4 separate regions of the Homo sapiens genome follow, and all the other regions are linked to region 2. The links come from fine-mapping of genetic effects on gene expression. A gene starts in region 2. Each other region holds a variant in brackets. All regions are shown on one strand. Distances are between the middles of the regions.

Region 1 (7,745 bases), 160 kb after region 2:
CCTTTATGATGATCCATTTACACTTAATGAATAGTAAATATATTTTCTTTCTTCTTTCTTTTTTTTTTTGAGAGATGGAGTCTCGCTATGTTGCCCAGGCTGGAGTGCAGTGGCATGATCTCAGCTCACTGCAACCTCTGCCTCCCAGGTTCAAGCGATTCTTCTGCCTCAGCTTCCCAAGTAGCTGGGACTACTGGCATGCGCCACGAAGCCCAGCTAACTTTTGTATTTTTTAGTAGAGATGGGGTTTCACTATATGTTAGCCAGGCTGGTCTCAAACTCCTGACCTCAGGTGATCTGCCTGCCTCAGTCTCCCAAAGTGCTGGGATTACAGGTATGAGCCACCACGCCTGGCCTGGGATTTTCTTAACATTTTCTTTTCTCCAGCTTACTTTATCGTAAGAACACAGTATATATAATACATATAACATACAAAACATATGCTAATTGACTATGCTATTGTTTCTGGTCAACATTAGGCTATTAGTAGCTAAGTTTTTGGGGAGTTGAAAGTTACACATGGAATTCTGACTATGCACAGGTTCAGTGCTCCTAAGCACTCATTGTTCAAGGGTCAACTGTATTTTTTTTTTTTTTTTTGACGGAGTTTTGCTCTTTTTACCCAGACTGGAGTGGTGCAATGGCGCGATCTTGGCTCACTGCATCCTTCACCTCCTGGGTTCAAGCAATTCTCCTGCCTCAGCCTCCCAAGTAGCTGGGATTACAGAAGCCCGCCACCACGCCCGGCTAATTTTTTGTATTTTTAGTAGAGACGGGGTTACACCATGTTGGCCAGGATGGTCTCGATCTCTTGACCTCATGATCTGCCCGCCTTGGCCTCCCAAAGTCCTGGGATTACAGGCTTGAGCCACCGCGCCCGGCCGCGGGTCAACTGTATTTTCCTGGAAAAGTAGATCAAACTGGAAAATTGCTCAAAGATGAAGACAATGACAACATAATCATCACTGCTCATGGCCTCAGTCTCTGTATTGAAAGAAGAGAACTGTTTCTAGCCACACCAGCCATAAAGGAATCATGCCCTGGAAGCAGGCTTTGTGAAAGAGGAGACTTTGTCATGTTCACTGCTATATCCACAGTGCCCGTTTTATAAAGAGCTTCTGAAATTGAGCAGACAAAGACCACCAACCCAATAGATAAATGGCCAAAGGATATGAACAAATTGGTTGCAGACAAATGCAAATGGCTCTTAAATATATGAAAAAAATTTTCAACCATACTTATAATTAGAGAAATGCAATTGATTAAGAAAACTGTTGCATTTCTCATCGATCAAACTGGCAAAAATCCAAAAGTTTGACAATACACTCTGTTAGCAGAGTTGGAAGGAAATAGGCCCTGCTATACAGTGCTGGTAGGAATACAAACTGTTATAACCCCCATGTATGGGGATTTGTCAGAAACTAAGAAAATTACACGTGAATTTGCCTTTTCACCCAGCAATTCCATGTCTAGAAATTTATCCAGCAGGTACATGTACACAATTACAGAAAGATACTTGTGTAGGTTATTCATCGGAGTATTGTTTGTAATTCCAAAAGATTGGAAGTAACTCAATTTTGTAGCAATAGGGAACCACTTACATAAACTGGCACATCCACAGAGCAAAGTACTATGCAGCTGTAAAAAAATATATAACAGGCTGGGCGCGGTGGCTCACGCCTGTAATCCCAGCACTTTGGGATGCTGAGGCAGGCAGATCACAAGGTCAGGAGTTTGAGAGCAGCCTGGCCAACATAGTGAAACCCTGTCTTTACTAAAAATACAAAAATTAGTTGGACATGGTGGCGTGCGCCTGTAGTCCCAGTTACTCAGGAGGCTGAGGCAGGAGAATTGCTTGAACCCAGGAGGTGGAGGTTGTGGTGAGCCGAGGACATGCCACTGCACTCTAGCCTGGGTAACAGAACAAGACTCCGTCTCAAAAAAAAAAAAAAAAAAAAGGTAAAACAAAGGTCTTTTCGTGCTGATTTGGAGAGATTCCCAGGATACATTATTAAGTGAAAAAAAAAAATGACTACAAATGTAGGGCGTCTTCTTCTTCTTCTTCTTCTTGTTCTTCTTCTTCCTCCTCCTCCTCCTCCTCTTCCTCTTCTTCCTCTTCTTCCTCTTCTTTTTTTTTGGTTACGGAGGAGGCAAGATGTCACTCTGTAGTTCAGGTTGGAGTGCAGTGACATGATCATGGCTCACTGCACCTTCCACATCTCAGGCTCAAGTGATCCTCCCACCTCAGTCCCCCAAGTAGCTGGGACTATCAGTGCACGCCACCACACCCAGCTAATTTTTGTACTTTTTGTAGAGACAGGGTCTTGCTGTGTTGCCCAGCTGGTCTCAAACTCCTAGGCCCAAGGGATCTGCCTGCCTTGGCCTCCCAAAGTGCTGTAGTACCTCTTCTTTTAAACAAATCTTAAAATTGGAAATGAACACATGAACATAACCATACATCAAATATATACCATACCCCTACAGAGGAAGGATTATGTCACATGATCCTAGGGCACACTTCTTTGACTCACCCTCCTTAGCGGGATATATTCTAAAGAGGAGAAGAACTTCAAATAAATTTGAAACTTCAACTTGGTCATTTTATTTTTGTAGAAGTGCTGTACTGTTACTTTGAAACATTTCTTTCTATTGTATGACAAAGCATATAAATACGTTAATAATGTTAGGATTCAAAATTTTCAGTATAAAAGAAAAGGGATACAATGATAAAAATCAAATAAATTACACAAAAGAGTATAGTATTAGATTTAAATTTTAAATATCAAAAAGTACTCATGATTTTAAAAATAGATATGGTATAGCTCTGTTTATTGAAATGGACCGGTAGCAACAATATCACAGAAGCAATGCATACCCCCTATCCCCACCTGAGAAAAAATTATTGGTAAAATAAGAATTAAAATATTATTTTAAATTTATTATAAATCAGCAAACATTATACTTGATGATAAAAGACTCAGGGCTTACTGTGTGCCCATAATTGCTCATTGATGTAAGTGTACCAGCTGACTGGTGTCTCCATTCTGACTGGGCAGGGCCCTTGTCTAGTTTTTACATTCTTTAAAAATATCCCAGAAGACATTATTAAAATAAAGAAGTGGATAGCATTCACCGTTTTGTAAATAATAACCAATTTATTAGGCAAAGAAATAAAACAAGTATAAATATTATAAGGAAATCATCATTACTTAATAGGTGATTTGGCTTAACACCTAATAAAGAGGGGGAGAGAGAAACAACGTAAAATTGTAGTTGATAATAGCAGTAGAATGCCAGTTCTCCCCAAATTTGTGTATAAACTTAATGCAATCTCAAACAAAATTACAGAAGGGTTTTTCTTTCCCCAGGGGAACATTTCAAGTAGCTGGGACTACAGGCACACACCCCTACACCCAGCTAATTTTTTATTTTGTTTTTTAGTCTCAATACATTGCCTGAGCTGGTCTCGAACTCCTGGTGTCAAGCAATCCTCCTGTCTTGGCCTTCTAAAGTGCTCGGTCACGGGCATGAGCCACTGTGTCCATCCTGTTTCTGAAAGAGACAGCCCAGGTCCCACTGAGAGACCACAGACGGCAGGAAGCGATGGGGAGGGAGGGCAAAGAGGCGCCAGTAGGTGGCGTTGTGCAT[T/C]TTCCCAACCCTGACACTTGCCCCTGGGAACTTAGACCCTCGGCCTTGGAGCCCAGGTTAAGGACAGGAAGACAGGAGAGTTATTCCTTTCCTCACACCCACTCCAAGGCGCCACTTCAGACCTGAGTAAAAGGGTTGAGGCGGGAAACCTGACAGCGGCGTGTCCGCGCATCCTCCCACAGGGCCTCTGCGACCGCTGAAATTGGGGCTGAAGAGACCCCGGGATTTTCTGGAGCATGTTGGACAACTGCCCGGTTCCACAGGGCCCTTAGAATGTTAGGCCTTGACTCCCCCAGCTTCTCAGATCCAGGAGTTTGTTTGCTTATTAAACTGTGCTAAAATACACATAACATAAAACTCAACATCTTAACCACTGAAAAATGTACAGCTCAGTAGTGTTAAGAATATTCACATTGTTGTGCAACCAATCTTTTTCATCTTGCAAAACTGAAATGCCACATCCCTTAAACAGCAGCTCCCCGTGCTCCCCTTCCTCCAGCCCCTGGTGACCACCAGTCTACTTCCATGTCTATGACTATTCTGTGTGCCTCACGTGAGTGGAGTCATACAGCATTCGCCTTTCTGTGGCTGGCTTATTTCTTAGCATAATGGCCTCAAGTTTGCAGCATGGGTCAGGGGTGCCTGTCATTTAACTCTTCTTCTTCCTGACTGTGAACTAGTTGTGGGACCATGCATTCTGTTTCTCTTTTTCTTAAATTGTCCTCAGGAAAATTAAAATGCTGGGAAAAGTCAAAAGGAAAATGAAAACTTATATTGAAATGCTTTTTGACTCAGGTAGAAGTCGAAGTGAGGGACCCTGAAGGTTTTCTCCCAAATTAGGAAGCCGTCAGGATGAATAGATGGTAAATATAGAAACGGTGACTCAAATAGAAGAGTGACATCAGAATGGAAAACTTCCAAAGAAAGCATGAAAAGAATTAGGATGTTTACATAGAACTAATTTGTTGGGGAATAACACACAAGCAAAGACGAAGACAAAGACAAACTTTTGTGCAATCTTGGGGAAGAGTGAGAGTGAACACTCATCAGTGTCCCTTGGCTTTCTGATTGCTCCTTTTGGAGGTGCACAACCTGGTCTTTGGGCAACTTTAGCATCTCCCTTCATTTCTACAGCTTCCATCAAGAAGTCAGGCCTACCCTCATTAACTCACAGTTGCCTTTGTAATTAAACTCAGGCACGTGCTCATTCACTCACTACTCTTTTGCATCAAAATTCCTTATAGGATACATGGATTTTATTAAGTAATCTTTTTATTCACAGTATCTGGCTTGGAGTCAGCAGTATTCATTCAATGAATGAATGAACTCACTTTTATGAGGAGAACCACCTCAACTAAAGACAAGCATTTAAAAATTTATACTCTGAATTCAACTTTCACTCAATTCTACTATCATCTCCCCTAATGTGCCCTTTATTCATATGGCAATAGTGGAGTGGTGCCATATGTGGACTCTATCACGTGGCCTGAATTGAAGTTCATTACACACTTAGTAGCCATATGCCTTTAATCTCTGTACCTTATGCTACTCATCTGTGAAGTGGGGGTATTAATCGCACCTACTTTGCTTTGGGCAGCATTTCCAGTGGTGGTCTTCCACTCACATCTCTAGGGTTAGCAACTGCTTCCACTGTCAGTTGCTAATCTCTGGGTTACTCCACCACGACATCGTGCATGACTTTTCAGCTCTTCCGTGGCTCTTGTAACTAATTCCCCATATCAGATTCCCCGTTTTTCTTAACTGATAGAGCTATTATTACTATCATTTATCATTACCTTTGGAGTCTCATAATCACTTTCCAAAGACTCCTACTTTCTCCCCCACAAAAATCTCCTATTTCTGTACTCATAAGTACAGTTGTCTGTTGGCAGAAAAATATTCTTTGATGTTTTGCTGCATGTTTGGGGACATGTGGAAAAGCTCCTGAGTGACCTGCCATTGTTTTCTCCCTTCCTGAACTCCCAGGAAGACTGCCTCATCACCTGAAATTTTGTTTGTTTTGATGTCAGGGCTAAAATGTGCTCAAAAAAGACTGCTGCCCCTTTTTGGCCACGTCCAGGCCAGGCTTATGGTCACCGTGTGCTCCCAGACCCCCACCACTTTGGCAGGGAAGCCTTAAGACTCTGACCTCACTGCTCACAGTCACTCTGCTTCCACTCACTCAGTGTGAGATAAGAGAAGATTCAAGTACCGTCATGTATCACTGAACCATGGGTATATGTTCTGAGAAATGTGACATTCGGCAATTTTGCCATTGTGTGAAGGTCATAGAATGTATTCACACAAACTCACATAGTATAGCCTACTACACACCCAGTGGTCCCCAATCTTTTTGGCACCGGAGACCAGTTTCATGAGGGTGGGGATGGGGAAGGTTTTGGCATGAAACCGTTCAACCTCAGATCATCAGGCATTAGATTCTCATAAGGAGTGTGCAACCTAGATTTCTGGCATGCACAGTTCACGAAGGATTTGTGCCCCTGTGAGAATCAAATGCCGTTGCTGATCTGACAGGAAGTGGAGCTCAGGTGGTAATGATTGCTCACCTGCCACTCATCTCCTGCTGTGGGGCCCGGTTCCTAAAAGGCTAGGGACCAGTACTGTTCCCAAAAGGCCAGAGACCATGGCATGTTACTGTATTGAATAATGTAGGCAGTTGTAACACTGTGGTAAGTATTTGTGTATCTAAACGTAGAAAATACTACACATAGTATTTGTGTATCTAAACATTGTGTACAGTAAAAATAGGATATGAAGGATTAAAAAATGGTGCACCTGTATAGGGCATTTACCATGAATGGAGCTTGCAGGACTGGAAGTTGCTCTGGATGAGTCAGTGAGTGAGTGATTAGTGAATGTGAAAGCCTAAGACATTACTACACACTACTATAGCCTTCATAAACACTGTACACTTAGGCTACACTACATTTATTAAAAATATTTTTCTTTAATAATAAAGTAACCTTAGCTTACTGTAACTTTTTTACTTTATAATTTTTTTTAATTTTGACTCATACATTAGCCCATACATTATACATACATTACATTAGCCTAGGCCTACACAGGGTCAGGATCATCAATATCACTATCTTCCATCTCCACATCTTGTCCCACTGGAAGTTCTTCAGGGGCAATAACAGGCAGGAGCTGTCATCTCCTATGATAACAATGCCTTCTTCTGGATACCTCCTGAAAGACCTGCCTGAGGCATTTTTACAGTTAACCTTTTTTTAATATATATAAGTAAAGGAGTACACTCTAAAATAATGATAAAAAGTATAGTATAAATACATAAAGCAGTGACTTCGTTGTTTTTTATTACTGTAAAGTATCATGTGCTGTACATAATTGTATGTACTTTACTTTTATGTGATTGGCAGTGCAGTAGGTTTGTTTACACCAACATCACCACAAACACATCAGTAATGTGTTGCACTACAACATTATGACTGCTATGACATCACTAGGTGATAGGAATTTTTTAGTTCCATTATAATCTTAAGGAACCACCATCTGTGTGGTCCATCATTGACTGAAACATTGTTATGTGGCTCATGACTGTGACTGTATGTCCTTTCCTCTAGCAGGCTCTCCTCCCCTTGCTCCTCTGCTTCACCCTGTCCTGTGGTGTGAAGTGGTCACCTTGGATTCAGGACTGGGAGAGTGGCAGGGCCAGCCCTAGAGTGAGCCCGGAGAGGTGCCCTCCTCCCAGGGGTGTGCAATGCAGGGGTAGCTTCAGAGGGAGCAGCTCCTTGCATTTTACATAATAGGCTCTTCTCTTGCCTCACACCAGTCCCTCCCCCAGTCCCTCCCCAGTAGACTGGCCTTTTCCACCGAAATGACAACAAAAAACCTGGAATGTCAGGGTTGGAGAATGCCTTTAAGTCATGTGACGCCAGTTTCTCTAAGTGTGGTCCATGGAGCACCTACAGGAGACTTAGCAGAGTCTAAACTGCAGATTCCTGGGCCCAGGCCCAGACCTACAGATTGAGAATCTTTGGGAGGTGGTACAGGAATCTGCATTTCAATAAAGAATCTCTGGCACTTCTTATAAATCAGCAGCTGAGAACTTCTAC
Region 2 (7,745 bases):
AGGCTGAGGTGGGAGGATTGCTTGAGCCCAGGAGTTCAAGGCTGTAGTAAGCTATGATCATGCCACTGCACTCCAGCCTGGGCAACAGAGCAAGACTCTTATCTCTAAAAAAAAAATTAAAAAAAAAAAGCCCTCCAGATATTGCCAAATGCCAAATGTCTTGCGAAGGGCAAAAATCACCCCTGGTTGAGAACCAGTGGTTTACACTGCTTATATCTACCAATATTTAGCATATTAGAAATGAAAACTAAAGAACTTTAAACTTTTTATGAATTCATTTGAAAATAAAAATTCTTTCATAACACATTAACATATTTTTATTAAAAAACTATCTTTTCCAAACCAAAAAAAGAAATTTAGCAAGAAGGGTGCCAATGATTTACACTTTTTGCAAATCTTTTTAATGTCTGGCTTAACGTGAAACCAGATAGTGGCTCCTCCTTTCTGTTTCTGCATTCAATCTAGTGATATGTTGTTTTTGTTGAAGTATATGAAGAAAATTCAGGCTAACTTAGACATGTAGTAGGAAAAGGGAGTATATTTTAATATATATTGATCTTATGTTTAAAATATATTTAACTTTTCAGCTAGTTACAGATATTCTTCTCTGATGCTAGACCACATTTGACAAGTTATGCAGTTTCTTAATGTCAGTTGCAATACAGACTCTGAAACCCTATCAATGACCTTTTCACACTGTTAATTAAAATCCACTATCACTTAGTTTTATCCGCTATCACTTTTGCACTTATCAACATAGTAAAATAGGCAAATATTACATTAATGTTATTATAAAAACAGATTTGTTGAGGATCCATTGAAGGGCCTTGGGACCTGCATGGTCCATGGAGCACAATTTGAGAACCACTGCCTTAAAGGATGAACAGAGTCTGACAAAAGTGGTAAGATTTATCATTTATTTAACATTTGGAATATATGAATTCATAAAAGCAACACTACAGAGGACAGTTTGCTTTCTCAGGACACTCTTTCAAAAGCTTATTTAAAATGCAGCTGACCCATATAATGTAAAGGTTTTTCTGGCAATTCCTTCAAATAATTTAGGTGGGAAAATTCATGTGACAAGCTTTTCAAACTGAACTATTAAACATTTAACTTAAAAGCTGCATAATAACTAAAGTTAAACCTGTCCTTTAAGTCTGGTTAGTGAGTTTATTTAAACATTATAATGTAAAGCACTGAGGAATATTACGTATGACAGGGAAGAACCAAAAGGCTCTGATAACAGACTTTCTCATTCAAAATGTTTAAAGTAATGATTACAGAATTTGAAGTAGAGTGGACAAAAACGAAGAAGAAATGCCTGAACTTTTGAAAGAATTAGGTATATACTGCTATTCAGGAAGCTATGGTGTTAATTATAAATTTTCAGCCTGAACAAAAATATGTAGGTGGTAAAAAAACTAGGTAGGTAGAATATACTAGGCCTTCTGTTTTATTAGTGGAGGGCAAGGCATTTAAAATACAGTAGTACTACAACAACAAAGGTGGAAAAAAGCCTGGGAGTTTTTTCACCAAAATGTTAACAGTGGCTATCTCCGGATGGTAGCATTCCTGGGGTTTTTTCCTTTTACTTATCTATTTTCTAATTTTTCTAGAAGAAACAGCATATACACGTAATACAAATAAAATAATATTTTATGTAACTTCTTACATCATAAAAATTAAAGTAACAGATTATCAAAAAGCAGAGGATTCAACATAAGCTTTATATTTAAGTGACGTGTTAACAATGGCAGTTTTGGTGAGTTTAAGAGTAGAAACTAAGATGAGAAGGAAGATCCGGTTTCTTCTTTACCGAAAAGAGACATGATAGATTGGAAAATGTCTCGTGGCTCAATCGTAAAGAAAAATAAGGAATGAATATGAATAATTTATGACAGACTAACTGGAGTGTGAAAGGGAAAAAAAAAGCTGAAGCAGGGAAGGGAACTCGACCCCTCGGCCAACAGTGAAGCAGAAGAAAACGCGGTAAATTGAGTCTTTAAGACCTAGTCTATTCCAGTCTATATAGAAGACCCCCAAGAAAAAGAAAGACTGCTCATTGGCCTGAGAAATTACCTTAGATTCATGACAAGGAAGGCCATTTGCCCGCAAAATTTAGCTACACTGGACGGGCAAGTACCCCTACAGAAGAGAAAACGTCTGTGAGCCCACACGACCGGCTGCTCACCTCAACAACTTGCACAGGCACCAGCTCCTTTCGCCGGCCGCCATCTTCCGCCGACCCCCGAACTCAGGAAACGCTTCACTTTCCTTTTCCCTATTGGCTCCTGAGAAAGCAAGCCGTGCTCGCCCCGCCCCCACGGGCCAATTGTGCGTTACTATTGGTTACTGGTAGCCGCTTCCCACGGCCTTCCAGCCAATAGAATATGCCGAGGCGTAGACTAGTGTTCGGCGTGGCGCACACGGCTCCCGCCCCCGTGGGCGGGACAGCAGTGGGGGGTTGGGCTGAGGAGGGCGTGGCCTGTGATTGACAGCCGTCGCTCCCTCCCTCGGCCACCTCCCCCACTAGAAGCCCCCGCCTGGGCGCCTGCGCCCCCGTTCCCGGCCCAAAGCCCGCCGCCCGTTGGAGGCCATTGGCTGGCCTTTGCGCACAGCGGATCGATTTTCCAGGTGCGGAGTTCACTCTTGCCGCGGTTGCTTCCTTTGGGACCCACGGCGTCCGGCAGCCAGGCGCAGAGTCCGAGGAGGGGGCAGCGCAGAGCGGACCCGACGCGGCGCCGCCGGGCACCTTCCCCGCAGGCGGTGGGTGAGCCCTGGGAGCTGAGTCTGCGGCCCGGCTCTGCGCAGCTCACCTGCCCTCCCGCTCCCGCACACGCGTGAGATCCCAGTACAGTGTCGGAGCGCACCAGCGCGAGGTGGCCGAGACCGCGGAGGAGGACAGGCCTCCGCCCTGCGGCGCCGGCACGGCAGAGGACATTGTGGCACTGGCACGGCAGAGAACACTGTGGCACCGGCGGGGCCGGCAGTTCCAGGGTGGGCACTCCCAGCCACCTGGGGAGTGGGCGAGGGTCCGAGGCCCACTCTCCCCTCACGCTCTCATCCCCGTGCCCCCAGGTCGGGAGGACGGCGGCGCGCAACTTTGAATCATCCGTGTGAAGAGGGCTGCGGCTTCCCCGGTCCCAAATGAAGGGGCGGTTCCCGGACCCCTGTTTGCTTTAGAGCCGAGCCGCGCCGATGCCCTCACACTCTGCGCCTCCTCTCCCGGGACTTTAACACCCCGCTCTCCTCCACCGACCAGGTGACCTTTTGCTCTGAGCCAGATCAGAGAAGAATTCGGTGTCCGTGCGGGACGATGCCTGAGCAGGAGAGACAGATCACAGCCAGAGAAGGGGCCAGTCGGAAAGTGAGTTTTGTTCCCCCGCGTCCGCGCAGCGTGCTCACTCCCACCAGGAGGATTTTCCTCCCCGCGTTCGGCGCTTACTCGCCCCCAGGGGGTGCGCAGGGAAGGCCGAGCCAGACCCCAGCTCCAGGGATGTCTTGGCGTGGGAGAAAAGGACCCTTTAGAAAAAGTGTGCCGTCAACTGATGTTTGGGAGCAATGGAAAACCCCGCACCTCAAAATTCATCTTTATGCTTTTAAGGGGTCTGATGCTGGAGAGATAAAGTGAGCGTCGAGTTGCTGTGCTAGAGCCCTAATGGCTCAAAACGATGAAGTTAGTTACCTGGAGAAGTTACTCAGAGCCTGGTGCTTGGACCAGATATGGTATATCGAGGTCCTGGAACTTTTATAACTGTTTTAAATTCATTTTAATTGTACAAGTAATACATTAAGACAGTCTTTTAAAAATGGAAACAGCACAGAAATATTTTGCACAAAAAGCAGATCTATTTTTCAGTCTTTTTCTATTCACGTACATATGTCTTCATTCGGCAAATATTTATTGAGAACTTTCTATGTTTCAGGCACACAGTGTTGAGTTGATACAGTGGTTAACAAGACATGTATCTATATGTAATATGCACACATTCAGAGAAATCTTTAGGTTTCATTTGTATGAGGTGTTAAAATTTTTGTTTTACCTAAATGAGATCACTGTATGTGCATTCTCTTTTTTCAGTTTAACGATATATCTTAGAGATTGTTTCACTAACTGTCTAATTCAGTGCAACCTCTGCACAGTTTGGACGCATCATAGTTTATTCATGGTTTCCTAGTGGTGGACGTTCTGTTTGCTACTTTTTTTCTCTCTCTCTTGCAAGTGAACATCTTTGTACATGATTTTTAATGCTGACACTATTTCTTTAGGATAGATACTTAGGCCTGGATTGCTGGACAGAACAGTAGGCTGTTTCTTTTCCACAGATTTCTGAAACTAATTCACTGACGTTGCTGGGTGCCCTTTAGTAGTGAATTCATCTAGGCTCCGGTGATACAGAAATGAAAACTAACGGATTAGTGGACAGACAGAGAGAGGCTGGTTAGTAGGTGGTTTGTAGGGTATGATGACTATGCATTTGATAGGAGTATGAAGAAATGTTGGGAGGGGTGGCTTGTACAGAGGAGATTTCAACTTCCTACAGTGTCCCCACCTAGAGAAAGAAATCATTATCCTTCCAAATCAAGCTCAAGACCTGCCACCTCCTTGAAACGTTCTGTAACTGCTCCTGCCCATGTTGACCTGTCTTCTGGAATCCTCTGATAATAGCGTTGACCAGCGTTATTGAGCTTACTGTGTGCTGGGCATTGTGTTAGGCACTCATATCCCTCTATGTGCACTCTCGCGTTTAATCCTCACAAAAACCCTTTGATGTAGGTATTATATCTTGTTATCAACATTTATTCAACAAATTTTTTTGTGTGTACTATGTGCTCAAACACATAGTACTCAAAGTTTTAGACACTGGGGATTTAGGTAGGACCGAGACCTTGCCCTCATGAATTTACATCCTAGTTGGAGATAGGAAAAAAAAAGGGATAAACAAATGTATAGCGTAGGAGTTAAGGGAAAACTTTTGTGCCCCGTGAAGCGTCACTGAAAAATCAACTGACAAATGGCAGATTAATAGGAGAGAAGGCATACACATTTACTAACGTGCCGTGAGAGTCTTACAACATAAGATCTCAAAGGAAGGCAAGGTGGTTGCCACAATTATACTATCCTGAGGTTACAGAAAGTGTGGGGGCTCTAAGCTTGGCCAAAAACAGGTTATGGTTGTAAATCAGGTTATAGGAGGGAGAGAAGAGGAGACCTGGCTAGCAAAGGTGGTCTTATGTAGATGAAACCTCACAGGTAGCAGCCCTCAGGGAGAAGAAATGTTTCAGACCTTGAAGGTGCCAAATTCAGCTAATCTCACCCAGATCCAGACAAGGAAGGGCCCTCTGAGAAAAACTGGCTGCGTCAATGGAGGTTCTCAACAGATGCTCATCTCCCTCACAGTAGGACTACTTTTGTCTGTAGGCCCTCTGAACGGCCATCTCAAAATATTTCCAATAAGTCTGTTTTGAGGTGAAATGTTTTAGTTTCCTTCAATAGCTTTATTTCAGGTACTAGTAAGTACTATGAAGAAAATAAAGCAGTTTGGGTCCAGGAGTTCAAGACCAGCCTGGCAGCATATCAAGACATCGTTTATACAAAAAAAAAAGAAAAATTAGCTGGGCATAATGGTGTGTGCCTGTCGAACCAGCTACTCGGGAGGCTGAGGCAGGAGGATGGCTTGAGCCCAGGAGTTTGAGGCTACAGTGAGTTGTGATCCCACCACTGCACTTCAGCCTGAGTGATAAAGCAAGATCCTGTCTCAAAAAAAAAGAAAAGAAAAGAAAGCAGAATAAGGGAATAAGATAGGGATTGACATGGGTGGAGAGGAAGATGCTGTTTTAAGTAGGTGGTCAGGGAATGATTTCTCTTGGAAGGTAGGATTTGAGTAGAGACCTGAATGATTCAGATTTCAGAGAAGTAGCCTAGGTTGAGAAACCATAAAGTGTGAGAGTCCTACGGCAGTCATGTGATAAGAAGAAATATATACTTGGTCTTGTCCCAAGTTCCTGACATAGAGCTTCTTAAACCGTTGTAATTTCCTGAGAGATGGTGATAAGAGCATCTTTTGTTATTCATAACAAGTCTCTTTCACCCCTACCTGAGTTTCTGTTAATGAGAGGGCTCTTGATAGGCCCCTAGATAGCTTCAGGATGGAGACTGATTGCCAGAAGAACCAACCATGTGATTAGGGGATTCGAATGTTCAGCCCCGTGCTCCAACCTCTGGAGATTGTGCCAATCACCAGTGGACAATGATCTAATCAGTGATGCCGGCAGAATAGAGCTTTCTTTAAATTTTTATTTATTTAGTTTTTTGAGAGGTAGTCTCACTCTGTTGCTAGGCTGGAGTGCAGTGGCGGGATCTCGGTTCACTGCAACCTGTGCCTCCCGGGCTCAAGTGATTCTCCGGCCTCAGCCTCCTGAGTAGCTGGGATTACAGGCGCACGCCACCACACCCAGCTAATTTTTGTATTTTTAGTGGAGACGGGGTTTCACCATGTTGGTCAGGGTCATCTCTATCTCTTGATCTCGTGATCCGCCCACCTCGGCCTCCCAAAGTGTTGGAATTACAGGCGTGAGGCCACTGTGCCTGGCCTTTTTTTTTTTAACCAATGCAGTGGATCACAAATAGAGCTTTCTTAAAAACCCTAAATGATGGGTTTTGGAGAGCTTCCTGTTAGTGAACACATCAAGGTGCTGGGAAGGTGGTTCCTGGAAAGGATATGGAAGCTCCTGGAAACCTCCATTCCCATATTTTGCCCTATCTTTTCCATGTGGTGGTTTCTTAGCTGTATTTTGTATAATAAACTGGTGATATTAAATAAAGTGCTTTCCTAAGTTCTGCGAGCTGTTCTAGCAAATTACCCAACCTGAGGAGGTAATTGTAGGAACCTCCTGACTTTACAGTTGGTCAGGAGTACAGATGGCCCAGACCCAGCGACTGGCATGTGAAGTGTGGGCATTCTTGTGGTCTTGTGGGCCTGAGCCCTTACCTGTGGGGTCCGTGCTAACTCCAGATGGTTGGTGTCGGAATTGAATTGAATTGTAGGGCACCCAGTTAGTGTCTGGAGAGAGAGCATTGGTTGGTGTGAAGAAAAACCCCACACATTTGGTGTCAGAAGTGTCGTGAGTGGAAACAGTACAGAAGACATGATGTTAGAGTTTGGGGAACAATAGGAAAGCCAGAGTGGCTGTGGCAGAGGGAAGGAGTGGGAGTGATAGAACAGGAGATCAGAGTTCATCATTGCTTTACAGATGGGGAAACTGAGCCAGACACAAGTTAAGTAACTTGCCCGATGTACCTTGCTTATAAGAGGCAGATCTAGGATTGAGTCCTAGCCAGGCCTGCCTGACTTTCTCAGCGATTTTTTATTGTCAAAACTTACTTGACACTTGGTCATACCACCTGGTATGATTATTTAATGAATATAGCTTTTATTTGCAACTCTGTGCTTCTTGAAATGGGAACCGGGTTTTTACCGTTTAAAAAACTATTTCCCACATGTAGGTGCACCACAGTTGTTCTTGAATGAATGGATTCTCGACATGATTTCTCCACATTGTTTTCTCTTCAGAGGCCTCTCTGTGGGGCAGCAGTGACCTGGTCATTCAGCCTTCAGTCCACAAACATTATGGAGCACTTTCTGTTTGCCTGGTACTGGGCCAAGCAGGGGGATGCATAGATGAAGAGAGGTCAGCCCCTGTGCTGGATGCATGCTGGGACAGAGCTGTCTACATGGTAC
Region 3 (4,793 bases), 64 kb after region 2:
CATCATAGAAAATAGTTCACTTTAAATCTCAATGGCATGATAATATTATTTAATACATTTTAAGAAAAATATCTTTTGATGTATATATTTACCAGTACCATCTTTGACCTCCCAGCTTCCCAAGTAATGTAAATAGCTTTTTATGTTTGTTTGTTTATTTATTTATTTATTTGAGATGGAGTCTCCCTCTGTTTCCCGGGCTGGAGTGCAGTGGCTTGATCTCGGTTCACTGCAACCTCCACCTCCCAGGTTCAACCAGTTCTCCCGTCTCAGCCTCCCAAGTAGCTGGGACTACAGGCACACGCCACCACACCCAGCTAATTTTTGTATTTTTAGCAGAGATGGGGTTTCACCGTATTAGTCAGGCTGGCTTCGAACTCCTGACCTCAGGTGATCTGCCTGTCTCGGCCTCCTAAAGTGCTGGGATTTCAGGTGTGAGCCACTGCACCCAGGCGTGAATAGCTTTTTATAATAGTTAAATATTTACTAAACATTGTATGTGAGGCAATGGAATATACATTTTTGAGTTTAAAAAAGTGGTTGAAGAACACTATCTTAGGAAATATGGTTTTATTAAACCTCAGAAAAAGAAAGGAAAATACAGGCCACCCCTCAAAAAAACATATCTGCTTGAGGAATAAAAGCTATATTACATCTGTGATTCTCAGTTGGCAGCTGTGACATTTTCGGTGTTTGTGACTGGGGGGATGCTGCTAAACATCCTGCAAGGCACATCACAGGCCCTACAACAAAGAGTTATCTGGCCCCAAATGTCAGTAGCACTGAGGTTGAAACCTTGATAATGTACTTAAAAAGCTAATGGCACACTTAGAACAGTATTTGGTAATGGCACAATGAGCGGAACAATGTTTTTACCTTATCTTATTCCTAGCCCAGTCTAGTGCTTGTTATACCATAGAGCCATAGAATGAGAAACCATACTGGGTGTGGTGATGCACCTGTAGACTCAGCTACTTGGGAGGCTAAGGCAGAGGATCATTTGAGTCCAGGAGTTTGAGGCTGTAGTGTGCTATGATCGTGCCTGTGAATAGCCACTGCACTCCAACCTGGGCAACGTAGCAAAAAGTACAAATACAGAATGGATAATTTTTTTCTTTTAAAAAAAATCCTTCACATAATTAAAAGTATATCAAATATTCTCAGGACACATGTCATTTACTAGGATGTATTTTCTCCCTCAAATTTCCCATCTTAAATTGAACAATGTTCAAGTTAAACACTTTCTGACATCTAAGGAACCTCAGTGCTCTTAAAAGTAACTTACAGATATATTGGTAGAATGTGCCTGTGGCTATCCATGGCACCTGACTGCCTATAATTTCGGCTTTTTCGGGAAAGCAGTGCGTTGGCATATGGCCATGGGAAGACTCAGTCCTAAACAAGTTGGAATCTGTGGCTTTCTGCTGTTCCATGCCTTTCCATCTTACTTTGGCTTCTTTTGTTTTTATCTGCAATATCAGGGAGGATGCTGGCAAATGAGGTACTGCATGTTCCTTTAAGATACTGTCATCTCTCTGCTGTACAAAAGTCATTGTAGAGAAGGGCTCATGGTAACTTCCAGAAGTCCACCCAGTCCTATCAGAATGCCAGGTGTGATTTTGACAAGAATTAGTGTATTTTTAAAAAAGATTACATAATCTTTATGTCTAAAAATCTTAATATATCCCTCTACCTAAATATAACTGTTTCTATGAAAATTAAAAGACCCCTTTAATAATACATTATTTTAGAATCCTGCCTTTCAGAGTGAAATAATAAAATGTAGATGGAAGCTAAAGAGGCTGTGGTCCATAGCCTTACCTTAGACAACTGTGCTTTTTACTATAAGTAAGTGAACATAGTATCTCTTGATTATACTCCATAGCCACCAGCCATTTTTAAAAATAAACCAAGATAATTCAAGCTCTCAGAATGCAAATAATACCAAGTGTCTGGAAAGTAGGTCATATTTTGTTTGTTTTGGGTACAAAGAAAAAATAGTGAAAAATACAGAGAAGAAAATAAAGATACCTCCAAATCATATCCCTAGAAGTAATTTTTTTGCATATTGGTGGATACCTTTCCAGTATTGTTGAAATGCTGTATTCAGATACAGGCGGAGATTTTTGCACGAATAAATCCCAGCACATGCGATTTTGTACTTGCTTTTTAATTTTGCAGTGCTGCTGGTACCTTTCCATATCAGTATGTTCCATCATCATTCCAATAGTTGCCTCGTATCCCATTATATACATCACACCTACAGTTTAATTAACCAATTCCGTATTGGTTGTTTCCATTTTTTATCATTACAAAAACAAAACAAAACACTGTGGTAAATATCCTTGCATCTTTTCTTATTTATATGATTATCACCTTAGAATAGCATTTTTAAGCTTTCCTAATGATGAGAAAAATAACGATAATAGTTACTGTTTCTTAAATGCCGCTCCTATGCCAGGTGTTATGTACTGTGTATATTTATATGTTTATATGTGTATTGCCTCATTCAATCCTTGCCACAATTTATGAGCTATGCATTATCATCTCCATTTTGTGTATGAGGAAACCAGGATCTGGATCTGTGTGGTCCATCTCCAGAGTCTGCTTTCCCCTATCAAGGGCTTTTATTTGACTCTGCTCCTGTAATGCCTCTTTGAGGGAAACCTGTAGGATGAAGTTGGATAGCTGGGATGTGGAGAGCAGTAACGTGTTCTCTATGATGGCAGAGCAGTGTGGAATACCATCTGTTTCCGGAACCCAAGTTCGTCACGTTGTGTCCAGTGCCCCCCTGAAATGTCCTTATGTGATTAGAGTTCTGGGAGCTTCCTTATTGAACTCTCAACCTGCCTCTGACTCTGTCCTGTTTTCAGAACCCCAACAAGCACATCTCCCAGACAGAGGTGATCATCCGGTTTGCTTTCCAGACGTCCATCACGGTGCTGTGCATTGCCTGCCCCTGCTCCCTGGGGCTGGCCACGCCCACGGCTGTCATGGTGGGCACCGGGGTGGCCGCGCAGAACGGCATCCTCATCAAGGGAGGCAAGCCCCT[G/A]GAGATGGCGCACAAGGTCAGCCTGTAGCACGGCTTTCCCCATCCTGAGAGATGAAAGTAGTATCTGTTTACTATTTCACATTGAGAGAAAAGCCTGAGAGCCACTCAAGACAGCAGTGTTAATTACATAGAATAGGAAGTCAAGTATAACTGGGAATAACAACAGTAGCAACAGAGTAGCCACCAGTCATATAATGGAACGCTTTATCAACATTACTTGATTTAATTGCATTAACAACTCTGTGTGGTAGGTGCTTATCATTCCCATTTTACAGATGAGGAAACTGCAGCAGGAGGAGATTAGGTAACTTGACCAAACGCCTGCAGCTAACCAGAGGCAGAGCTGGGATTCACACCCAGGTAGCCAGGCTTCAGGACAAAAGCCCCACCGTGACATCTGTGGGATTAGTGGTGGGTCCTGTGACCCTGGGGAGTGAAGAGTGAGTGACGGTGTTTGTGAAGAGTCTTCCTTTTGCCCAACTTACTAACCTCTGGCCTTCCACACTTTCACCTATTTAATCAGTATTTGCTGGGCACTCACTGCGTGTGAGCCCTGCACTGGGTTCTGGCGATGGTCATGGTTTCCAGCCGCCAAGGAGCCCACCAGGGGGAAAGACAGACAGTGAAAAAGTAAATAGCAAAGCTGACTGAGTATTACGAGATACTGAGTATTGACTGGTGGTGCTTGACGTCCTGGGGACACTTGAACAGGGGCCAATCCTAGACTTGGGGTGCTCGACTCAGGGACAAGGGTGCTGCAGGTGGTCAGGGAAGCGAATACGAACGTTCATCTGAGACCTTACTGTTGAGTGAGAGCTGGACAACGGAGCTGGGGAAGAGTGTTCCAAAATGGGGACAGAAGGTGGAAAGCACCTGTGGAGGTGGAACTTCCCCTCCCCGCGGTATCCCCAGCATCTAACCTGAGACATCAAGTGCATTCAGAAGTTATCTGTTGAATGAGCAAATGAGGAACTGGAAGAAAATCATTGAGAGAGAGGAACCAGAGATGAGGCCGTTGAGGGAGGGGCCAGAATCCAAAGGCTGAAGATTTAGTAAAGTGTTCTGAACGTTAGCCTAGAAGCCACGTAGGGGATGGCATACCCACGTGATGTGACTGGATCGTGTGTTGGGAAGATCATTCCGGCTGCAGTGTTAAGGTTGCGCTGAAAGCTGGCAAGAATCCCTGGAGGAAGATGAGTTAAGTGTGTTGAAGGAAGGAAGGCCACCGCTCAGCATCAGAAACAAAAAGCTGAATTATTGTTTGCTTGTAAGGGAGAACCCTGCTTGTGGGACATGGTCTGAGAAGAGCAACCTGCTGGCCTTAAATGGGTAAAATTATACACTTCAGGAATTACTGGACTTTCAGAAGCAGGGCTCAGGGCTCGACTGGCCCTGGTCATGGAAGTGCAGGTACCTGAATGTAGCTGCTGCCCATATCTGAGCCCAGAGGTGTGGGGACTCTGCAGACTGCCATTGACTAAGTGTGACCAACTTAAAACTGGCTCTGGGGGTTTGTTTGTCATTATGGCCATAGAATAGTCCTTTCCTTTCTTGAACTCAGAGTGTGAGGACTCTATTCCCAGTAGCTTTTGCACTTAGGCAGGCAAAAGGAAGCTGAGGTTGGGCTCGGCGGATGGCAGTGGACAGGGAGGCAGGTGTCCCTCAGGGTCCTGACTCCTGACCTGATGTGGGGGAGTATGTGGATGGTGTCACTGTCTGGGGGACAGTGCTGTGCCATCTC
Region 4 (7,745 bases), 120 kb after region 2:
TTCTGGCTTTTATTACTGTTTTTAATTGACACATAATAACTGTATATATTTATGGGATACAGTGTGATTATGAAGCCTTGCACCTATGTTGTTTATCTCAAGTATTTTTTCTTCTAGATGCTATTGTAAATTGTTTCCTTGATTTCATCTTCAGATTATTCATCGCTAGTATATAGAAATACAATCGATTTTTTATATATTGACCTCATATCCTGCAACTTTACTGTACTTGTTCATTGGTTCTGAAAGCGTGTTTTGTGGATTTTCCAGATAAGAGATCATATCATCTGTGAATAGAGATAGTTTCATTTACTTACCATTATTCTTACTAAATGAATTAATAAGTAAGAGCTGTGGGAGTAAGACATGCAGTCTAGACAGTCTCTAGAAGGTGGCCTTGACAAGGCCAGCAGTGATCAGCAGTGGATGAGAACAGGTTTAGTACTGTGAGATTGGAGCAGGGATTGAGGCAGAGAAAGTGAGGAGGAATGACAGGCAGGTACAAGGTAGAATCAAGTGAGTGGTAGATCAGGAAATCCTAGATAACAGGTTGCCGGTGGCACAGTCATTTTTATTACCTTTTTAGCATGCTGGGTGCCTCTCCTGGAACACATTTAAAGGACCCAAAGGACTCCTTCCAACAGTGCCGTCTTAGCAGGAAAAAGATATAAGTCTAAGCCATTCTTGTTGGCTTTGTGCAGCCAGGATAGGCTGTGAAGTAGGCAAAGGGCAGAAGAGGAGAGAGAACTAACATTTATTATCTAGTATGTGCCAACATTTTGCATATATTGTTTAGTTTAACCCTTACATTACTCCTACTTTTGCAAATGTGAATCTGATGTTTGTTTTGTAAAACATTCAGAAAATGCATGATATTTATGTAGTGGTAGCTGCCATCACACCATAAGTCAGTTGCCCATTTCTCCATCCATGAGGCAGCCATCCTCTCTATTATAAGGAGCTCATTTCTCAATTAGTTCTTTGAAAACTGAAAAGCATGTAGATATAGAACAATATCCTGCATTAGTGCTTCTTAACCAGGAGTGTGTCAGGAGAAAAATCCCCAGGAGTTTCTTGTATTTCTGCATGTTTATGAGCAGGGGCACTGCACTTTTGTTCTAATTATCTTTTTATTTTATTTTATTTATTTATTTATTTATTTTTGAGATGGAGTCTCGCTCTGTTACCAGACTGGAGTGTAGTGCCACAGTCTCTGCTTACTGCAGCCTCTGCCTCCCAGGTTCAAGCGATTCTCCTGCCTCAGCCAGTAACTGGGACTACAGGTGCACGCCACCAAGCCTGGCTAATTTTTGTATTTTTAGTAGAGATGGGGTTTCACCATGTTGGCCAGGATGGTCTCAATCTCTTGACCTTGTGATCCACCCACCTCAGCCTCCCAAAGTGCTGGAATTACAGGCGTGAGCCACCGCGCCCAGCCCTTTTTTTTTTTTTTTGAGATGGAGTCTCACCCTGTCACCCAGGCTGTAGTGCAATGGCATGATCTTGGCTCACTGCAACCTCCGCCTCCTGGGTTCAAGTGATTTTCTTGCCTCAGCCTCCTGAGTAGCTGGGATTACAGGCACGCACCACCATGCCTGGCTAATTTTTGTATTTTCAGTAGAGACAGAGTTTAACCATGTTGGCCAGGCTGGTCTCCAACTCCTGACCTCAGGTGATATACCCACCTCGGCCTCCCAAAGTACTGGGACTACAGGCATGAGCCACTGCGCCCAGCCTTGTTCTAGTTATCTTTTCAACTATTTTTTTCAAGAAGATTATAAAGGAAATCATCTTGGCAGACAAAAATAAGAGTCCCCCTCCAGGGAAGACAGATTTTCTTACTGTGTATGATAATAAAGATAATTTTGGCCAGGCACAGTGGCTCATGCCTGTAATCCCAGCACTTTGGAAGTCTGAGGCAGGCAGGTCACTTGAGCCCAGGAGTTCAAGATCAGCCTGGGCAACATAATGAGACTCCATCTCTACAAAAAAAAAAAAAAAAAAAAAAAAAAAAAAAATTAGCCAGACATGGTGGCATGCATGTGTGGTCCCAGCTACTTTGGAGGCTGAGATAGGATGGTTGCTTGAGCCTAGGTCAGGGCTACAGTGAGTCATGATGGCACCACAGCAAGACCCTGTCTCCAAAAAATAAAAAAAAGACAATGTCTTACTATGGTGTAAAAGTTGGGCAGGTTTACCTGCAGTCCTTTCAGCCTTTCAAAAGATTTGGGTTTCTGAAACTTGGGGCTCCTCTGCTGTGATGAACCCAATGTGTGCTCTGTATTCACCTGGGCCACTCTGCATCACCCTGTGGTGCCAGAGAACAAAGGGAACCAACCTGAACATGAAGTTTATGCTGCTTGCTGTGCTTTGTTTCTGACTCAGGAGTCTTGTGTCTTCTGACGGTGTACATGGAACTGCGGCAGACTAACTCCTGTCAAGGTGCTCATCTAAATCACCTGTGGGGTTTCAAAAATCCATACCTGCCTGGGTCCTACCCCAGTGATTCAGATTCAGTATGTCTGGAGTGGAGCCCAGGTACCTGGGTTTCTTTAAGTTCTCTGAATTGTCCTGAGCACATGACCAACTGAGACCACTGTTCTCACAACAGTCAGACCCCCAAGCCGACCAAACTGGCCAAGCTTCTGGCAAGGATCAGTGCACAGTTGGAAGTACTCAGCCGGGTTCTGGAGACACTGTAAGAAGACCGCTGCAGGGGTGCCTCATGGGAAGAGATGGACCTCCTCTGGTGGTCGCAACAGGCTTTGTCTGATAATCACAGCATCCCCCTCTCAGGGCATCCGGCTGGGTGCATGGGGCATGTGCACCGACAACTTGAACAACCTTCCCCAGAGGGCAGTGACTGCAGAACCAGGACCTGCCCTGAGCATTTTAGCCAGGCTGTGAGAGGGTGCCCTCTCCTGGACATGCTGCTGCTGCTCACATAGTTCCTTCACTTAAAACCAAGTCTCTGAAATGATAAGAAAACTTCAATAATTATTCTAAAAACATACATTTGTGTTACACACACGTGTTTCTCTGTCTC[TCTCA/A]TACACACACACACCCCTCTAGAGCTATATGGCTTGTTATAGGCTTTGAAAATCTTTTATATTCACCAAGCTGTCCCCGATGGCACAGCTAGAAGGAGCTGGAGAAAAAGACAAGTCAGTCTGAAGCTTTCTTGTAGGCTGAGAGTTACATTTCCCACAGATTGGCTTCTCCAGGAAGGGGATGTGGAGTGTTGGACTTTCCTGTGCCAAAGTTGAGACTGGGGCCCTGGGGTTTGCTGAACACTAATAGAATTTAGCAGACTCTTGTTCTCCCTGAAGAAAAGAGCTTTTGAAAGCAGGCATTGTCCACAGAAAAGAGATGAAGTGTTTAGGCTAAGAGGAGGAGGGTCAGGCAGCTGTTAGAAGAGGCTTGTGGTTACGTTGGTTGCTATGTGGGAAATTTTTGTAAAAATTTAAAAAGGGAAAAAAGACCATGGCAAGAGCATCCTGAGTCTCAGGGGTTGTGTATTGGAATCTGAGAAGTGGAGAGGATATTTACCATCACAGGGGGGCTGTCAGATCACGGATGTTAAGCATTTGGCGCATTGGGAACACTCCCTACTGGTAGCTGTAAATATCATCATTAGCTGCATGCTCAGCTGTTTTATTTTTTCCCCCATCCCAGGGCAGAGGGTGGGGGGATGTAGGCAGTGGTGTCAGGGTCTAGCTGGGAGGAGTGAGGGGACAGGAGGTTGAAGATGAGGAAATGCCTGGTCTGCTATCTTGGTAGCCCTAGCTTCAGGCCCTGTCCCACAGGTAGATGGATAAATGTCCCAGGTGGAGCCCATAGCAAACACCCCTCTGCACCTTCCCACCAGAGTTCTTTTCAGGGCTATCCAAGAGACAGCCAGAATCCATTCCCTGCCTAAAGCACAGAGAATCTGACTTGAGCCACTGTCTTGTGGCTCGATTTCCCTGCAGTTACTACCGAGTGTGAGCCCCATCCATAAGGAATATTTAGAAAACCATCTTCAGAGGCAGTTTCCCACCCCACAATGGCAGCTGAAGAGGACAATGCTATCAGAGCCTATGCTGGTTATGGGTTCTCTGCAGCTCCCCACAAACCACCCCAATACCACATGCATCTCAGCCAGGCTGACCCAAGTTCCTTTTTCCTTTAAGTCAGGGGTCCCCAGCCCCTGGGCTATGGACCAGTACTTGTCCATGGCCTGTTAGGAACTGGGCCACACAGCAGGAGGTGAGTGGCAGGTGAGCAAGCGAAGCTTCATCTGTATATACAGCTGCTCCCCATCACTTAAATTACCACCTGAGCTCCACCTCCTGTCAGATCAGCAGTGGCATTAGATTCTCATAGGAGCATGAACCCTATTGTGAACTGTGCATGCCAGTGATCTAGTTTCCCCACTCCTTATGAGAATCTAACACCTGATGATCTGTCACTGTCTCCCATGACCCCCAGATGGGACCATCTAGTTGCAGGAAAACAAGCTCAGGGCTCCCACTAATTCTACATCATGGTGAGTTGTAGAATTATTCCGTTATATATTACAATGTAATAATAATAGAAATCAAGTGCACACTAAATGTAATGCACTTGAATCATCCTGAAACCATTCCCCAGCCTGGTCCATGGAAAAATTGTCTTCCACGAAACTGGTCCCTGGTGCCAAAAACGTTGGGGACCACTGCTTTAAGCGACTGCAGGCTCCATTTGCACATTTGGGTTTGCCCTTTTGCAAACTTCTCAGTCCTTTCGCGCCTTTCCTTTGAACATCCACTGGGCATCTGCTTCTCACCCTGCAGCTGTAATTTTCAGATTTACAGAACTTAGCTCCCCAGCAAAACCCCAGCCAACCACCATCGCCTCATCCCCAGCTGCAGTGATTGGCTCCAAGGGTGAATACGTCACCCAAACCTGGCCAATCAGAGTCCTTTTACTGAACTTCCACATGTAGGGCTCTTCTATCTTGGATTTTTATTACCTGGGAGGGCATAAAGCTGGTATTTCCTGTGCTGATGTCCCAGTCCCCTGACTCACAAAGAAAGAGTGTCTGTAGGGAGAGAGAACAGGCCCAACACATGAGGTGTGGAGAGCTGGAGAGCACTCATGCCTTTGCTTTAGTTCCTGAATCCAGTTGTGCCTGCAGCCACTTCTGTCCCTGTCCTTTCACAGTTATCTGTCCCAATACATCCCACTCCCTCCTTGATGATTTGAATTGTTGCTGACACTTTTTAACCTCTAAAGTTGTGATGACTACAAACTTGTTCCCCAAGCAGTTCTTCAATGCAGGGGGTGTGGTGTGTCTGTATCCATTTAGTCTCAATTTGAAGATTAGAAACTTGCTGGCCTGTCTCAGGCCTTCCAGGCTCCGTCCTGTGTGATGACTTCTTCCTTCTTTGCTCTGCATATAGCACTACTGTCTTCATCATTTATTACTATTGTGATCTTCGTTATTATTTAAATCATACAAAGTTCTGCATTGAGGATTTCATGTATTATATTTGTTTTCTCCACAACAAGATGACAAGCTTTTGGAATTATTTTTACATCTTAAAAAACAGTCTTTTCAGGACTGACCTTAATTCTGGGCACCTATCCAATAAATAACATTAATTAAATAAAAAACATTTTCCCAAACGCAGAAGCAACTGTGTGGCCTCCTCTGAGCACGATCACATTCCCTGGTGATCGAGTCTTCAGCTGATGCTGATCATTTGAATGTTCACATTCTCAATGTGAAGAGGCCAAGCAGAAGCGCATACGGTGTGAGCCAGGGGAAGAGATTTTTGTACAGCTCCTCTAAAGTAAACATTGTTTTGGGGAGAATCCCAGAAAAACACACATTCATCGTTGTTGCTGTTTTTTCCTGATTAGTCTCAGGACCACAGTGATTCTGAAGCAGCAGGTCCTGGTGAAGCTAAAGGAAGAGGGGGATCTGAGATTAGGGTGCAGGGAAGGAGGGACAATACTTCAGCACAGAAACAAGGCCCAGACTTTCTAATTTGGGATGCTTTTCGCATGTACTTCTTTACTGAGGGAGACAGAGCTTTTGATGCATTTAATACTGGCAAATTAAAATGGCTAAAACACAGATATAATTTAAGCTCTCTCCTAATCCTCTAAACAAATACTCGAGAACTGCAAAGAAAGAAAACTAAGCTAATCTCCATCTGAGAAGGTCTCCTTAGTTTGACTTCTGTTCCTGTGAACCCTTGGAGAGAAGGCCCTGGTACAAAGTCCTTGCCAGGGAGCTCATTGTTACTGCCAAGGACAGGTGGATGTTTAAGGAGTGTGTGCAGACAACTCAAGGAGCATGAAGGATGGATGTATGATGTTTGTCAGAAAATGGGAAGAGCTGAACAAATTAGCCAAGAACTTTTACTAGGTTCATTTACCTTTGTGTTGTAGTCAGGGTGCAGTAAAGAAAGGCAGGGAGTTTTGTGGACGGAATTTAATACAGCAGGCTAGTTAGAAGGACGTTATAAAACCAGGGGAGGGTGAGGCAACCCAGAGATTAGCAACTGCAGGAAGCCATTACCACTGCTAGGACGGAGGAACAAAGGGAGGGGACTGAGCCACCAGACCCAGGAACTGTGAGCTGGAACTGTGGAGGAGGGGCTGCATGAGATGCCACCTGAGGACCCTATGGCTGAAACCATGGGGGAAAGGCCATCATGGGGAATGGGAAATGGAAGCCAAGAAGAGGCTGTGTGATGGAGCTGGGTCCAAGGAGGAAATGTGGTCACCTACAGAGAGAGATGTAGTCACTGCCCAAGAAAAGACTGGAAAGGGAGGTGGAGCTGGTGTATTACCAAGTTTCCCTCTTCTTCCATCCATGCCTCCATTGGCTCAATCTAACAGGAAGCAAGTGGGCACAGAAGCCATCCCCCAACAATACCAAGCAGAGTAGGGGAAGGTGGGTAATGGGTCTGAAAGCAAGCAGATAACTTGCCTACCTGTGCCCCCTATTTTTCTGCCACACAAGTCTGCATGCTTTGGGGCACAGCAGATGTTCCAGGCTGAGATGAGATGACAATGATGATGAAAAACTGTGTACAGCGGAGTAGATGTTCCCACTTCCAGGCTTCGATAAACATAAACCAGTATATCTATTGATGGTTGACAGGAAAAGATTCCCAGTCTTCCAAGAGTCTCAGATCCCACCACCCCTGAGGGGCAGAGACTAGTCCTGCTCTTCCTGAGTTTCTCCACAGTCAGCAGGTGCCACAGGAGACTCAGATGAGGCAGGGAAAGGAGAGCCTTTCAGCTCTTCTCCCTGAGCCCTGTTTCCCCACCTCTTCCACATCTGGGTATGAAAATGGACCGTATTGCCACTGGGAGAAAGCCAAATCCCTAAATGTGAGCTCGCATAGCATTACTAATACACCTGATCTTCAGAATTTTGGTTAACACAAGTTTACACATATTTTCAAAAAATCATTGACCTTACAAAGCTTTTATTTGACTTTCAATTCCATTCTATTGACTGCCCTTGCCCCCCTCCAACCCCCACTGCCCAGTGGGCAAACAATCCTGATCAAGCTCACCCTTCCCTCCTCCAAATACTCTTTCCAAATACTCAGGACTAGAAGCTAGGGGTTCGAATCAAAAATGAATAAGACACAGTCCTGCCTCTTTTTCCTTCCATTTCCCTAGAACAGTAGTTGTCCCTCTCCTGCAACCCACCCCTGCGGAATCCTTCGTGCAGATGTCATGTCACTGAGGAAAATAAT

Evidence for each region. PIP is the estimated chance that this variant, and not a neighbour inherited with it, causes the effect.
Region 1: its variant is fine-mapped to the expression of ATP7B in whole blood (TOPMed, PIP above 0.99). The same link has a PIP of 0.9 or more in neutrophils.
Region 3: its variant is fine-mapped to the expression of ATP7B in tibial nerve (GTEx, PIP above 0.99). The same link has a PIP of 0.9 or more in subcutaneous fat.
Region 4: its variant is fine-mapped to the expression of ATP7B in whole blood (TOPMed, PIP above 0.99).

What each region holds. Positions count from the first base shown.
Region 1 is chr13:51,845,736-51,853,480 of GRCh38, reverse strand. It overlaps a transcript of TMEM272 not described here. Among named protein-coding and RNA genes, the nearest start is that of TMEM272, 4.4 kb to the right of the region's middle. RefSeq lists an enhancer at 3,803-4,303. The variant T/C (reference allele first, on the strand shown) is at 3,649.
Region 2 is chr13:52,006,912-52,014,656 of GRCh38, reverse strand. ATP7B (ATPase copper transporting beta) reads left to right here and starts at 3,207. Exons shown (of 21, transcript NM_000053.4): 1 at 3,207-3,370. The coding sequence starts at 3,320. ALG11 (ALG11 alpha-1,2-mannosyltransferase) reads right to left here and starts at 2,259. Exons shown (of 4, transcript NM_001004127.3): 1 at 2,195-2,259. The coding sequence starts at 2,238. RefSeq lists enhancers at 2,001-2,090, 2,141-2,270 and silencers at 2,391-2,490, 2,501-2,610, 2,661-3,000.
Region 3 is chr13:51,944,559-51,949,351 of GRCh38, reverse strand. ATP7B (ATPase copper transporting beta) reads left to right here. Exons shown (of 21, transcript NM_000053.4): 13 at 2,874-3,068. Among named protein-coding and RNA genes, the nearest start is that of ATP7B, 64 kb to the left of the region's middle. RefSeq lists enhancers at 3,752-3,851, 3,912-3,981. The variant G/A (reference allele first, on the strand shown) is at 3,053.
Region 4 is chr13:51,891,636-51,899,380 of GRCh38, reverse strand. It overlaps a transcript of TMEM272 not described here. Among named protein-coding and RNA genes, the nearest start is that of CCDC70, 34 kb to the right of the region's middle. The variant TCTCA/A (reference allele first, on the strand shown) is at 3,047.